4 linked regions of the Homo sapiens genome follow. The protein of the gene in region 4 purifies or fractionates together with the protein of the main gene of each other region. This does not show direct contact. Each region holds a gene or a part of one and is shown on either strand. Other genes may lie near its edges. The genes, in order: WWP1, COLGALT2, SEC24B and TMEM255A.

Region 1 (3,785 bases), on a different chromosome or scaffold from region 4:
TACCTCCAACAAAACAGGGTTTTGGTTCTCAAGAACAGGTGGAAGATAAATATTGAGTATAATTAACTGGGTCTGTTACAAGATTATATTCATCAAGATGCATATACTTTAAGAAATTATTTTTCAGGTAATGATTTTTATATTTGTCATTATTATAGAATTCTTGATAGAATACTTATATTTTCTTCAGAATATATTTCTAGGTTATAAGAATGGAGGCATACATAAAAATGTGTTTTTATGTATGTATGAAAATATAAAAGATACTAATTAAAAGTTTATTTCTATAAATGATACTGGAGTTGAGTGTTAGTTTTATTAGTGGGCATTTGTTTTAAAGAAAATTGTGATAACTGTTCTATTTTTAAACAAATAATATTGCCTCATTTAAACATCATAATTTCCTATATGTTCTTCTCCCATTTCATCTTCCCTCTATAGATTAGTATGGAAGGACTGGGAGAGTAAAGTATTGATGCCAGTGTATTATTTTTAAATCATTTTCGAAAAACTAATAATTAATTTGATAGTTGATAGTCTCCTCTTCGTGACATTTTATGAACTTAGTGTCTTGGCTGGGAGCGGTGGCTTACACCTGTAATCCCAGCACTGTGGGAGGCTGAGGCGGGTGGATCGCTTGAGCCTAGGAGTTCGAGACCAGCCTCAGAAACATGGCAAAACCTTGTCTCTACAAAAAATACAAATATTAGCCGGGTGTGGTGGCGCATATCTGTAGTCCTAGCTACTCGGTTGTTGCTGAGGTGGGAGGATTGCTTGAGCCCGGGAAGCAGAGGCTGCTGTGAGCTGAGATCACGCCACTGCACCCCAGTCTGGGTAATAGAGCAGGAAGATCCTGTCTCAAAAAACAAAGAACTTTGTGTCTTGAAATTGCTATATTTCCTTATAATGTGGACCTATCTATCTGTCTATATAATAATATAGATATATTTTTGAGACAGCTTCTCGCTCTGTTGTGCAGGCTGGAGTGCAGTAGTAGTGTGATCACAGTTCACTGTAGCCTCCACCTCCTGGGCTCAAGTGATCCTCCCACTTCAGCCTTCCAAGTAGCTGGGACTTTAGGCATGTGCCAACACATCTGGCTAATTAAAAAAAAATTTTTTTTTATAGAGACAGGATCTTCCAGGCTGGTCTTGAACTCCTGGGCTTAAGTAATCCTCCCACCTTGCCCTCCCAAGGTGCTGAGATTACAGGCATGAGCCACTGCGCCCAACCCCTTATCATATTTTTAGAAAATTATTATAAAATGTGATTCTGCCACATGCTTGGCTTATTTCTACTTTCATATTAAAACACTGTTATTTTATTTCTCTCCCTAATCTTTTCTCCAATCAGGCTTCAATGTTAGCTGCAGAAAATGACCCTTATGGACCTTTGCCACCAGGCTGGGGTAAGCTGTTTTTGCTAATGATCTATAAGGGAGATATATATCTCTCCATATATATATATATATATATATATATATATATATGTTCCTTATTTTATATATATATATCTCCCTTATATATGTCCCTTAACATATATATATCCCTTATAATATATAATATATTTAATATGGATTATATATTCTATATATTATATATTCTGTAGAATGTTATATATTCTGTATACTATATAGAATATATAATCCATATTAAATATATTATATATTATAAGGGATATATATGTATATTATATATGTATATATTATAAGGGATATATATATGTATATTATAAGGGATATATATATGTATTATATATATAATATACAGAATATATAGAATAGATTATATATTAAAGAATTATATATTATAGAATATATATTATATTCTACATAATTATCTATAATATAATATATATTATATTCTCTATAATATAATATATGTTATATTCTCTATAATATATATTATATTCTATATAATATATTCTATAATATATAAGGGATACATATATCCCTGATATGTTTTTATATATATAATATATATTATATATAATTATATGTGTTCCTTATTTTATATATAGATCCTAAATAGTTATTAAATATTATACTCACTTTATATTTCAGAAAAAAGAGTGGATTCAACAGACAGGGTTTACTTTGTGAATCATAACACAAAAACAACCCAGTGGGAAGATCCAAGAACTCAAGGGTATGTATATACAGCAGCCTTAAGTCGTCTTGCATATATCAGTAGGTAGAACCAACCAACCTTGAATGAGATATTTTTAGTACCTAGAAAAGGTTCATCTTGTGATTTTAACTTTATCTTTTAGCTTACAGAATGAAGAACCCCTGCCAGAAGGCTGGGAAATTAGATATACTCGTGAAGGTGTAAGGTACTTTGTTGATCATAACACAAGAACAACAACATTCAAAGATCCTCGCAATGGGAAGTCATCTGTGTGAGTGAAAACCTGAAGTTCTCCTTTAAATATTGCTTAGTGAGCACATGAGATTTAGTCTCTAATTTATCCTCAAGTTTAGCAAAACATTTTACTTTTTGGTTCAAGAAAACCTACACAAGTGAAACCTTAGTATAGCTGTCTTTGCTCTCATTTGACAATGGATTTGCAGCATGTAAACTATTTATGTAGTGATTACTGTGTGCCGAGGATTGTTCTAAGTACTTCATAGGTATTAACTCATTTTATCTTCCAATAACCCCTTGAGGTAGATACTATTATTTTTCCCTTTACCAAGTGAGGAGAGGTATAGGGAGCATAACTAACTGTGCAAAGTTATAAGGCAAGTAATGGAGCTGGTTTCTAACGATGACAGTCAGTCTCTGTCTAGACTCTGTGCTCTTAACTGCCACATCACACTGCTGCAATGAGATGGTCAGTGAAATGATTTTTCCAGATTTAAAGATACCTTAATTAAGCGGTTGACAGATCTCTCCTTCATTCTTACTCTAAGGTGTCATGTCTTTGCATAACTAAGAAAATAGAAGCAATCCTAAAAGGTCTTTTGCAAAGTTGTACCACCATATCTGTCCGTCTCCTACCATCTCTCCTCCCTCCTGTTCCTATAGATGAACTGTCATTGTTATTATCAAAGTCTCGTCCCTCTGCTGGTACATTCGATTCCTACCCCCACTTTTCTACTTAATTGCTCCAACAGTTATCACCTTTGTGTTGCATTATCAGGTTTTATTTCTCTACAAAATTATTCTTATCAGCTGTTATTTCTCCTAGATATAAAAAAAAAGCAAAAAAAAAAAGAAATTACAACTCTTCCCTTTACCAATGTGTTCAATCGCAGTTCATTTTTTTGTTTTTTTTTTGAGACGGACTTTCGCTCCTGTTGCCCAGGCTGGAGTGCAATGATGCGATGTCAGCTCACTGCAACCTCCACCTCCTGGGTTCAAGCGATTCTCCTGCCTCAGCCCCCTGAGTAGCTGGGATTACAGGCACCCGCCACCACACCCAGCTAATTTTTGTATTTTCAGTAGAGATGGGGTTTCGCCATGTTGGCCAGGCTGGTCTCGGACTCCTGACCTCAGGCGATCCACCTGCTTTGGCCTCCCAAAGTGCTGGGATTACAGGCGTGAGCCATCACACCCAGCCCACAGTTCATTTTTATTGCTCCCCTTTACAGGAAAGCTACTTGCATGGTTGTCTCTGTATTGCTGTTCATAGTTTCTCCTTTAAACCAACTCCAAGGAAGTTCCCCTGACACTGAATTTGCAAGGGCACCAATGATCTTCACATTGTTAATCCAGGCGTTGGTTTGCAGTCCTGCCTGATTTGACTTACCAGGAACATTTGACACAATACATTTCTCTCTC
Region 2 (3,785 bases), on a different chromosome or scaffold from region 4:
ACACTAGTTGAATCCAGCAGCCTTACACTAAAGGGTTGGCAGAACAATGGTAAGGACCATGTCCACTCATGGACAATGAACTAGACCAATGGGGACAAGTCACTTTTAGGCCACCTCAATTACTAATTTCAACATGATTACCTGGATTTATCCACATAGACAATCAGTGATGGTGGAATAAATAAAAGGATGTAACATTTTAAAAATCCATTGTTTTAGAAATCCATAGTTTGTCTTGCTAAATAAAAAGCTTACAATGGAAACCAACGTACCCAATAAATTTTATTAAAATCTAACAAGATTGAGGAAAGGCAGAGAAGAGGCTTGTACTTTTCTAAAATATTTTCGTATGCTGGCTGTTTCAAGCCTTACATGCCAATTCCACAAAATCCATTTGCAACACAAGAGATGGTCTGACTGTCTGAATACTCTCCCGCCCAACCTGTTTCTAGCACAAGGAAAGCAGTGGCGTGGAAGCTGCATATAAGCTTACTGTTCAATGGTGCAGTGATGACATGAAAAATCCTGATTCCACTTGGCAGCAACTTTCCACTATCTTGGCGGGTGTAAACCATAATCATTGTGGTGTGTGGTGCTGAGACAGGATTATGGGGCTGGCTGGCAACCAAGAAACTAAAAAACAGTCTATTAGTCCAGCAAGGGACTCCGTGTCGGGAATGCTATGGCCCCAAATGTCTACAACCACACTTTTCACAACTATCCCAAGAATTTAAGTTCTACTGTTAGTCTCTAGAAAATTCTACCTTTCCCAAGACTCTAAAATGCAGCAGTTTCTCACTTAATATGGCTTTCAGGGAGAACACCAATCAATGTACCTCCACAGACTCTCCTGTCTTAGAGTTATGTCTCTCTCTTGTGAGAATGAGATACTTGCCTTCACCACTGCCCTCCCCATCTCCAAAACATATACAATCACTCTCAGAAAGAAAAGGGACTGGAAAGAAACAGTCCTACTTCCCTCTTGGCAGCAATTGTATGCACTTTGGGCTTGGCAGTCCAAATGGGGAAAGCTCTATGTAAGGAACCTCCTCTCTGCAGCCTGATGTATCCCTCAATAGGTCTTGAAGTGATTCAACCTGGAAGGTAATGAACTATTCCAATAAAGCCAATGTGTGAATGAAATCAGGTACTCATGAAAATGCTTCAGCTCAGCAGCTTGTCCCAGACTCATCTTCTACCATACTCTTGGGGGTATACAGCCCAAGATCACTATTCTAAGATCATTATTTATGTTATTATTTGTGTTTCTGAAAGACATATCTTCTAAGATGTCTTCAAACATTAATCAGAAAACACTGGAGGGAAGGAGATTATTTTGCATTATGTTTGCAGAGGAACAAAATCTTATCAGTTAAACCAACAAGTCAGGGGACAGGCCTTAGCTTGCTGAATTTGACAAACAACTAAAATAATAATTGTTGCTTCAATTAAGTGAAACACGTTACAAAGTCAGCCCTAGCAAGATGTCATGGAGCTATTATTCAAAGTCTAACTCTGAAAGGATTTCTGTATGGTGCTCCTAGAGAGGAAAAGAAACGCCCTGCAGCCAAATCTGAGGTTTAATTCATGCAAGAGACTTGGCTAATGCCACCTACCACAAATGCTGCATTTTCACGGATCTGAACTACAGAAAGTTCCAGCAAATTAATTACAGCCACTCTATTTATATTCTACCTGACTTTTCAATTATTACCTATAATGAGATTTTTATTTTTATGAACATTAATGCACAGCTTTCCTACCAGAGGAGTAGAGAGCTAAGGGAAAAGTAATACAATCCTGATCCTTTTACCACTAGGTCACTCGCTGGCAGCTTGCCAAGCCTGCTGGTTCCCCAAAGTAGTTACTGCTTGGGTCCTAGGGTTCCTTCAGCAGCCTGAGGTGGGAGCAAAGCTCACCACCCAAATGTCAACATGGGTCAGGCAAGTCAAGTCAAAGAAAGACAGCGGGGACTAACTGCAAGTGCACACAGTGTGGGTCTGATGGGGACTGGGCTGCCTGGACAAAATCCAGGGGACAGCAGCTACTCAGCTCCAACAATAGTTGCTGTGTATGAATCCAGGCCTGGCAAGGTCAGGTGCTGGTTACATGGCATGTTTTGTCTGTGAAAAGTTACCAAGTTATACATTTATGATATATGAACTTTTGGATAAATATTACACCTCATCAAAAAGTTTTTTTTATTAGGGCCAGACCTTCTAGAGGCCAGAGAGACAAGGACAAGAGAGCAGGACGGGTGTTATCAGAGAGGCCTTCAGAGTACCTGCCTGGAACAGGTGTTATATGAAGCTGGCTTTTATTGTGCCACCCAGGGCATGGCTGTAGATAGGCTGGCAGTGTTTAAAGAACATGGGATAGAGAGATGGATTTTAAAATATCACACTTATCCAGAACTGGATATGTAAAACACTCATATTTGGGTTAAAATGAAAAGGATATATGTATATGTATAGAAAGTTTCTAGAAAAATATGAAAGAAAGTGTTAATATTGGTCACTGGCAGGTGGTATAGAGTAGATGGGAGATTTACTTTTTGTGATATTCCCAATCATACTTTTTTTATTACTTTCCCATTTAAAAAAGTCAGAAGAGCAAATTCTTAAAATAACTGAAGTACTATTAAAAATCCATAAAGACCCTAAGGGATTCAAATTTTTAAAAACTAACAATTTTTGATATGCTAACAACATATCAATTAAATGCAATTAAATGAACAAGTCACTCTTTTGAAATAAAAATGTCAAAACATAGAATACATACGTTTTGTAATTCCTGATGAATAATAGCTATAATTTAAACACATATGGTAAAAGTTCTTCATGATATGGTAACTGGGGAATAGGTGTAGTGGCCATACCATAGGCTAATGATTTTCTTTCAGACTTTACTGTATGTTGTTATGCTATGTCAAGAAATATGCAGAAACAAGCCTTATTATTGTCCTACTATAGTCCTATATAAGCCTTATAATGGTCCTACTATACTGTGCCATAGACTTGGAGACGGTGCCACACAGCAATATGACCCAAGTGCACGTTTAAGTGTTGGAAAAAGAACCAAGAGACAACCAGCAGCCTTCTCAGTTACAAGGCATTCATTGTTCATTCCTATGACCACCAGAAACAGACAAGCAAAAGGAACCTAAGAAGCACATGCTTATGTATTTGGAGTCACAAAGAAACTCCCTGGCCTAATCACTTGGATAAAGGAGCTAAAAACAGATCTGAGAAAACCAAACTCTGCTTAAAATACTCCCCATGCTCCTTTAAACCAAGAAGGATATTCATTATAAAATAATCAGCATTAAAACAGCTACACAGGATTAAAAATCTAGAAATCAGTTATCTCATTCCATAATCACCATGGGAATCTCTTAACTGCCCTGTGCTTTAGATGCCTCATCATGGAACTCAATATAATAAAACCAGGGCAACTTAGGCATTCTTACTAATTCTGTAGTTAAGCTGTCATAACTGGAACAACAGGATTGGTGTCATTTATTAGTCACTTCAGTTTTTACCCAGAGGAAATATTCTGAGCTCCAATCATATTTTGAAATTGGAGGTTGCAGGGAGGATTGATAATTTCTTCAATCATTTGGAATGAAGCTGAATTTAGGGGACAACCAAATCTAAGACTACTGATTAAAAAGCCTGAAAAATGGAATCTCTATTTTACCAATATGAACTGAAAATGTAGCCAATACGTGTATGATTAGTGCCACCTTAATCATTTGCCACTAATAATACTTGAGAAATTTCTTT
Region 3 (3,785 bases), on a different chromosome or scaffold from region 4:
CCATTGATGAATATCTTGGGGTTGAACTAATCTATATTTATGAGGTCAACTTTTATGATGAAGCTATAAGACAAATTTCTAGAAGTCAAACTGGAAGTTCAAAAGGTTTATGTTTTTAAAATTGACATTATTGGCAAATATCTCTTAAAAGGTCTATCAATTTATACCTCCCATCAATAATGCTTCATATTGCCTCATTGTCCCAATACTGACTATATATTAATCTCTGCCAATCTGAAAAGTGAGAAACACTTTAGTTTACAGTAGTTAACTTTGAATGATGCTGAGACTCTCATTTGGGTGTCTTTCTCTGCTGTTTGCTTTTTCTGTAGCATTGCGATTTCCTTAATGATTTCTAGCTGTTCTCACACAGTAGAAAATTAGCCTAATGTTATGTGCTGTAAGTATTTCCCCCAGGTTACTGTTATGTTTTCACTTTGTTCATGGTATCTTTTGCTATAGTTTCTTGATTATGTAGTAAAATTCTTTTTTTATGCTTGACAGATTTTTAAATCATACTTAGTAGAGGTTTCTTCATTTCAAGATTATAAAACTATAAAACCATGTTTTACTCTAGTGTTTTATACTTTCATCTTTATATATCTTTGATAAGTATAGCATATATTTATTTTATTAATACCAACAAAACATTAATCCTAATATTAGTCTTATTAATATTAATATATTAATATATTACATTATATGCCATTCACTGTTCTAAATGCTTTACATATATTAACTTCTTTAATCCTCTAAAGTAAATAGTATTATTATACCCATTTATCAATAAGTGAGCCACAAAAGTCAAGATGTTTAACACAGTTACATGCTTAGGAACTAAATGGGCCGGAATTTGAATCAGGCAATCTGGCTCAAGTTTATGCTCTTAACCAATGATCTGCTGTCCTTTGCTACAAATGGCCAATTGTCCCAAAAACAGAATTCTAGTTTTAGTTCCAATTACTTTTCTTTGGGTTTTGGGCAAATCTTAATTATCTTGGAATCTAATTTTTCTGTCTTGTGGAAGGAAACAGGTATCTGTGCCATATCTCAAATCAAAGGATAATTTAATAGAAAATTGACAAGATGTTTTAGCTCCACTGACACAAGTACACAAAGGAAGTACCACTACACTCCTTGCCATAATAATGTATTAAAATACTTGTTTATAAAAGAGATAAGAATAAAGCATACATTTTCTAATTGTTTTCAATTTGTACTAAGTAATGTAATGGAATCTTCATTTCTGGTCATGTAATATATATTCTACGGCCAGCATAAAAATAACTTACACAGTCAAGCTGTAAGGGAAAAATATCATCTACATTCCTCCTATAATTCCAAGAAGTATACAGAAAACCAAAATACTGATAACGCTATTTTACTAGGTGTATAATTTACTTTTCTTAGATTATTTTAGATGGTAATAATTCATCTGAAAGAATTTATTTACTTAAGGAAATAAAGTCTGTTAGGATCTTTCATTAACACGACAAAAGTAAAATGTTGTCCTCCTTTCTCCTATTTAAATATATTAAAAGATGGATCTGCTACCTTTCACTGTAGTGTCAGAAAACTCTACACTAGTAGAATTTATCAATGAAGAGCCAAGTCAGATTTAGAGAAATCTGTTCAAATATCTACCCACTTAGTGACTGATCTGGCATATCCATGCTACATGATCTGAAACGAGAAATAATCATTATGTCCCAACTATTCAAATGTCATTCTTTTAAAAATAACAGGAATGTCCTAGCTGCTGAAATTTATCAGAAGTGAGTTGCCCACCAGAATAAGTCTATTTACTTTCTAGCCTATCAAAGAAAGGTACTTACTCCAGGAAAACATGGGGGGTGGGAATATCTAATATATCTAATCATATGTGGATGCTTACTATTTCATACTTTATATCAAGACCTAAATGTTCCCAATGTATAAAAAAGTATCTGAAAGTAATTAAAGTTAATAAAGACAAATGTAAATCATTTTTAACATGTATTCAGTATTTTTAAATTACTGAGATATTTTGCTTTTTTGTACTATTTCTTCAAAAATCATTATGTATTTTACACTTATAGCACTTCTCAATCTGATCAACCATATGTCAAGTACTCAACAGCCATGTACAGCTAGTGGCCACCACACTGGATGGTGAAAGTCTACAGCATATGTCTATGATTCCAGTTGTTTCTGCCTCTCATGACAGATTAAATTTTCTGCCCTCAGTGTTTTCCCCCTATTCTTTTCTCGTGTACCTGCTTCAGTTTTCTTCCACATTTATTTAAGCTCTATGGCCTCCAAATATTGTATTCCAAGAAAGAACTATTTTTTCGAAGAGTAGAGCAACACAGTGCATTATGTACACATATACATATATTATGTTTAACTTATCTGAATAAAAAACTCTTGTAGTAATTATTCATCTGTGATCTTTCTTGGGATTCAAAATGATTCTGCAGCATGTATGAAAAGACTGCTGGTATTTTAATACTTCTAAAATAGACATAAAAGTTGTGGAGGAAAAAAATTTGTTACATATATAGTAAAATTTCTGAAAAATAACTTCAGAAGTACTTTTCTTATCACAAATGTGATACAGTCATTGTAAAAAAAAAAAATACAGAAAGTGATCAAATAAAAATCATCTTAATCTTCCCGAGATAACCTGCTAACATTCTGATGTATATCCACCCAGTATTTTCTTTTTGCATATATATGTATAATTTAGTTAAGCAAAAGTGGGATTATAATGTATCTTTTAAATGATTCCTTCATTTAGCATGATTTGAATATCTTTCCATCATTATTTTTAATGTCTGAATAGTATTCCATTACATGAATTTACCATATTTTAATCAATTTTCTATCTGCCATTTAGGTTTTCATTTTTTTAACATAAACCACCTAATAAATAGATCTGTAGGTAATTTTTGTGTTCATTCACTTTACTAAAAATAACTTCCTACCAGTTGCAATTGTTGGGTCAAGTCTCTAGTTGGCAGCTTAACTGTGCAGAAGTGGGAGATGTCAGGATGCCCAGCAATAAGGGAGGTAGAGATCAGAATCAAAGTGGGCCCAGAAGCCAAATTTGGCAGAGACTGCAAAGTCTTTATAAATCTATTCCAAAAATGAAAAGAAAATATATTCCAAAAATTGGGGGAAAATGTTACCAGTAAATGAACAGACAAGGGATATCGAGAGAAATGAAAACTATTTAAAAAATATTCAAAATAAAACAAATAAATATGCTAAATGGTCTCTACAGTATGGCAGAAGACTTAATGAACCTTGATTAAGTTGACCAACCTTGAAGATTGGTTAAGAAAATGATCTAAGAAACATAGAGAAAAAAAAAAGGCTGAAGAAAAATGAACAAAATTCGAGAGACCTGTGGGACAACACATAGCAGTCTAACACTTGTAATAATCAGTAAAGCATGTAGTGGGCTAAAGAGTGGCCCGCTAAAAGATTATGTACACATCCTAATCCCCCCAATCCTGTGAAAATTACATGGAAAAGTGTGATTATTGCCTTAAATGACAAAAGACATGCTTAGGTTAAAGATCTGGGGAAGAGGAGCCTCTCTTGGATTATTTGAGTGGGTTCTAAATGCAATCACATGTATCTTTATAAAATATACATACAGAAGAAAAGACATACACATAAACAGAGAGAAGGCAATGTGAAGTTGGAGCACAGAGTGATGTAGCCACAAGCCAAGGAATGCCAACAGTGAGACAAGTAGGAAGAGTCAATGAACATATTACTCCCCTATGAGCCTACAG
Region 4 (4,568 bases):
CCAAGTTCTTTACAAAGGGCTTCCTTTTTAATCTTCAAGAAACATATTTTCTTCCTTCAGAAGATGGGAAAGGGCAAGGGCCTTCAGTCCCATTTCCTGGATAAGAAAAACAAAGCTTTACAGTAGATTAGCAAGGCAGATCTGGAAAGAGCCAAGTACTCTTCTTCATCCCATTGACTCTTAGAATAGTTTTATACTTGATTTGGTTTGGGTTTTTCGGGGAACATGGAGAAAGGATTGCAGCAACCATCAGAAGGAGGTGGTTGGAAGGAGACCTGGCAAGCAGAGCCTGGGAGCTCCTCAATGGGACAGTATGGGCACCTCCAAATAGGTATATTCTCTTAGCTATGTTAGGCTTCCAGGGCTGTTCCCAGAGGGAGGTGGAGTCCACTGTTACCCGCTTCCTCACCCTCCACCTCCCCTGGCCACCAGATAGATGTCTTGGGGGCACTCCAAGGAGGCCTCATCCTGATCTGCAGTTGTTTTGAGAACATTCAAACCACCTTTTGGTCCAACCACAAGGTGCTTCAAGCCCAATATCCTAATGGGGTCCAAAAGGATAGGTTCGAGAAGGATTTGGCTGTCTTCCAAGATCAATGACATTCCCACCTCATCCCCAGTTTCCCTTAGTAATCCACAGTGGATCTGTCAGCCATGACTTTACTTTCACTCTTTCCAAAGCTACTTGCATTTTCATCTTGCTGCATCTTTTGGAGCTAATGAATTCCTTAGGTTTTCCATTTGCTATAGAGAATAATAGTTCTTTTCAGTCGCCATAGCAAGAACACTCACCTTGGAGTCCAACAGATCTAGGTTCTAGCTCTCACTTCTGCCACTTACTAGCTGAGTGGGCACAGGATATTTTCTTCCCTTCTCTGAGATTCAGTTTCCTCCTCTGCATAATGGGGTTATTGATAACTCCTCTTCCTCCCTTGCATGGCTGCTATGATGATAAAATGAGATCCTTGTTATAAAAGCACTTGAACAGTACAAACTGGGGTTCTGGTGCAGAGTTATACTTTAGCTGAATTTTCTAGCTAAAGATTGGGGGCTGTTGGTTCTAGAATTCTCAGGTCTGGTGAATAAGGCTGTGCTCCTTCTCTCCGTCTCTGCATAATTTTATACACTCTGGTCACATCACTTCCCAGCCTTCATCGTTCTAGACTAAAGAGTCTGCGTTTGTTTAATCTATCTTCATATGTCAGCCACCACCCTCCCCCCGCCCCACACACACCATCCCTTTGATTATAGAGTGGCCCTTCTCTGGATCATCTCCAGCTCCATTATGTCATTCTGGAAGCACTAAGACCAGACCTGCTCAAGTGTGTGTGTGTGTGTGTGTGTGTGTGTGTGTGTTCCTCAGCTCTGAACCTCTGACTCTGACCCCCTCCCCAGTTATAAATCCTAGAACAGGATAATTACCCAAGACCCTGTCCAACTATAGAGAAGGTTGGTTGGCTTCATACTGAAGCCTCCCCCTCTTTCTCTGCGCAGCCCTGGCCCCAAGGGGCTAAAACTGCTCCCTGTCTGGCTTGGAAGGCTGGGAGGTGGATAACTAGGATGGGGAGACTGAGGGGGAGGGAGGAGGGGGGGGGTCTTGCGCAAGCGCACGCGGCTGCACGGACCGCCAATGCTGCTGCCTCCCAGAGCAGAGGGAGGCAGAAGAGGAGGGAGGGAGAAGAGTGGAAGGGAGGGGGAGGCGGCACTTGGGCTGCAGCTCGCAACCAGAGGCAGTGTCTCTCAGCTCTCGGAAGGACCGAGAGAGGCAACCGCGGAGTAGGATGCTCTGCGGGGCGCCCAGAGCCGGGGGCGCTTGAAGCAGCTTCGGGGACTGGGGCAACCGGGCAGTTTTCACCATGCATCAGTCCCTGACTCAGCAGCGGTCCAGCGACATGTCCCTGCCCGATTCCATGGGTAAGTCTAGCGGCCCTTCCTTCGGGCGGCGGCAGCAGGGGTTGAGTGCCCTGGCCTCTGGACTGTGAACGCCCCAGCTGCCCCAAAAGCCGGAGAGCGGGAAACGGGGCATGGATGGGGTGGTCTTCGCGCCCCAGCGTCTGGGTGGTGGACCAGAGTCCCAGGGGAGCGGCCTGGCTGCAGCGGGAGCGACGTGCGGAGATCGGAGCGCCAAGCTTGCGTCGGAGTATCTCTGCCCCGGAGTGCGGGTGTGTGCCTGTTTGTGTGCGTGTGTCTACAGACTTGCAGTCGGTGGTAAATCCCAGCAATCTGAGGATCAAAACACTTCCCTGCAACCTGCGCCTTCGCTTTCCATTCGACACTCCCTCTTTGCAAAGTCCTGGTCACTTCTAAGAGCTCACGACTAACGACAATTAGAAGCAGGGTCCTCGCCCCCTCCCAACTCTCTTGAAGCTGCCCTGAAATTTAGAGATGCAGTTGGGTGGGGGCCTGACTTGCACCTCGCTGATTGGGGGGGGGGGGCGGGTTGCGCAACTCTGGGGGATGGGCGGGGGTGAGAAGAAAGGGGGGGATGAGGGGAGGGGAATTCCTGAGGAATCACTCAAGACAGCCCAGCCCTGCCCTCTGCAGCGGCGGGATCAACATTCTTTGAATTTGATTGTTACTCTGCTCCAAATGCACGGAATGTGCATGAGTGTGAAAAGGGAGTCAGGGGCAGGAGTGAGAGCGCGAGAAAGAAACATCCAGCGCGAGCCCGCGCATCTTCTGAAGTCGCGCTTTTCCTCGCAGGGCGGAATGGAGGGGGAGGGGCACCCTTCGACTCCTTTCCTTATAGAAACTGGGGGACAGCTACCTTCGGGCACCAACTTGGCTGCCCCTCGAAGCTGCTTTTTGGTAGTTACAAAAAAAAACAAACCCAGTCCCCCTCAGCTGTTAGGCACCTTCCCAAGCCCTGTGATTTCACTGGGCGGAGAAATTAATTTGGAGCCCTGGAGAGCGGGAGGGGATTGTAAAATCATGATCCCACCTAATCTTTTAAAATTCGCCTCGGATACACTTCAATCAAATCGAATTCTCTCTTTCCAACATACTTTACATTCTGCAAAATCCCTCTGTCCCGCAGTTCCTGCCATCAGTCTGCTCAGGTCTTCTCCGATGAATTTGCGGGAACATCTCGAGTGGAGGGGGCAGGGAGAAGATCGAACCCCCTATATAATCTCCCTACTGCCCGCAGAAGACTCAGTGTCAACAAAACTCGTTCACCGGAGGGGCCCCAGAAAGTGTTATCTCCTGGATGGTGGAAAGATCCGTATCCTCAATGGTTTTGCATATTCAGTATAAGAATTTGCTTTTTCATTTTTAAGGGCGTAGTTATTTACAACGGGGTACAAATGAGGCCAAGGACTTGGTCCGAATCCCGAGCCCAGCAGTACCAGACTCCCCCTTACTCCCAGCTCGCGCGCGCGCACTCTTTCTCCAACACACACACCACGCGCACACACATACAGAGGGAGAGGGAGAGAGAGAGAGCGCGAGAGCGAGAGAGAGCGACAGCGAGAGCGAGAGAGAGAGAGACAGAGAGGTGGGAATGCACTGCTTACCTTGGCCAGCTGTGGCGCCAACAACGCAGCCCTGGCTCCCCGACGCCAAGCTGTTGCGCTTCGCGAGGGAGGGCAGAGTGGAAGAGTGCTGGGGTTCCGCAGCGTCCATTCCCGCTGCGGACGACAACCACCTAACCACCTGCAAATCAAGCCACAGCGCCCCGGGCCCGTCTGCCTTCGGGGAGTGGGCTGGTTGGTGGCCCAGGGCTTAAAGAGTCGCTACTTGGCGCACTGCTCTGTGGGTTGGGGAACAAGATGAAGAGCTTTCTTTCTTGGGCTCCCAGGGGCCCTCAGCGATCTTGTGTTTCTCGAAAGGTCTGCGCAACAAACAGCTGAGTGGGCTTCGCCCAGCCCAGTCTCCACACTGCGGGAAAGGAATCATAAATCCCAGATAGAAGCGGAGCCGGCGCCACGCATTCCACTTTTTGAAGTCCGCAGACCGACGGCACTGGCAAATTCCTGAGTCCAGTGCTAACGCTGGGTTTCCACAGTTTGGACAGGGGAGTCTCCCCGGAGTTCCCTGGCCCTGGTCCCGCACAGTCCGGGCCTGAATCAGCGTCTAGGCTACTTAGGAGCTACTCCCACTTAGCTCTGGCAACACCACCTTCCCTTGCGTGGGGGGAAGAGGACAGTGGGTAGGTAGGTTAGTGTTTCAGCCTCCAAGGGCAGCATTTCTGAGGGGACTCCCTTTATTGTCAAGACACAACCGCAACCAAAACAATAAAATTTAAAACACGCAGACACACTGCACCAAGGTGCCTGCACTCTACGCTTGCTGGCTGCCTGGGAATAGAGCAGTGCGTCCAAGGCTCAGAGTGGAGCAGGCGCTTTGCAATTAAGAAGATGGTAATTTGACTCCAGTGTCCCCCCATCCCCTCCCAGCAACCCCCTTCTCCCTTTTGGCAACACCGCCCCCAGGCGCAAAGGCACCTCTACTACAGTAGGGCATTCCTTCCTCCCAAATAACACATTTGTAATTCGCGGGCGGCCTCGGATGTTCTCCATTCAGAGAACTGTCTAAAGTGGGGAGGGATGGATTTCAGCGCCTTTAAG

What was found.
Region 1: the proteins of TMEM255A (region 4) and WWP1 purify together in Homo sapiens (affinity purification with mass spectrometry; 3 studies listed by BioGRID and IntAct, with this or other methods). This does not show direct contact.
Region 2: the proteins of TMEM255A (region 4) and COLGALT2 purify together in Homo sapiens (affinity purification with mass spectrometry, with the first as the bait; one large-scale study listed by BioGRID). This does not show direct contact.
Region 3: the proteins of TMEM255A (region 4) and SEC24B purify together in Homo sapiens (affinity purification with mass spectrometry; 2 studies listed by BioGRID and IntAct, with this or other methods). This does not show direct contact.

Annotation. Positions count from the first base shown.
Region 1 is NC_000008.11:86,429,344-86,433,128, forward strand, and holds part of WWP1 (NEDD4-like E3 ubiquitin-protein ligase WWP1), read left to right. Parts: intron 1-1,353; coding exon 1,354-1,408; intron 1,409-2,062; coding exon 2,063-2,147; intron 2,148-2,271; coding exon 2,272-2,400; intron 2,401-3,785. UniProt on the Homo sapiens protein: E3 ubiquitin-protein ligase which accepts ubiquitin from an E2 ubiquitin-conjugating enzyme in the form of a thioester and then directly transfers the ubiquitin to targeted substrates.
Region 2 is NC_000001.11:184,027,510-184,031,294, forward strand, and holds part of COLGALT2 (procollagen galactosyltransferase 2), read right to left. Parts: intron 1-3,785. UniProt on the Homo sapiens protein: Beta-galactosyltransferase that transfers beta-galactose to hydroxylysine residues of collagen.
Region 3 is NC_000004.12:109,457,667-109,461,451, reverse strand, and holds part of SEC24B (protein transport protein Sec24B), read right to left. Parts: intron 1-3,785. UniProt on the Homo sapiens protein: Component of the coat protein complex II (COPII) which promotes the formation of transport vesicles from the endoplasmic reticulum (ER).
Region 4 is NC_000023.11:120,308,598-120,313,165, reverse strand, and holds the start of TMEM255A (transmembrane protein 255A), read left to right. Parts: upstream 1-1,704; 5' UTR 1,705-1,856; coding exon 1,857-1,914; intron 1,915-4,568.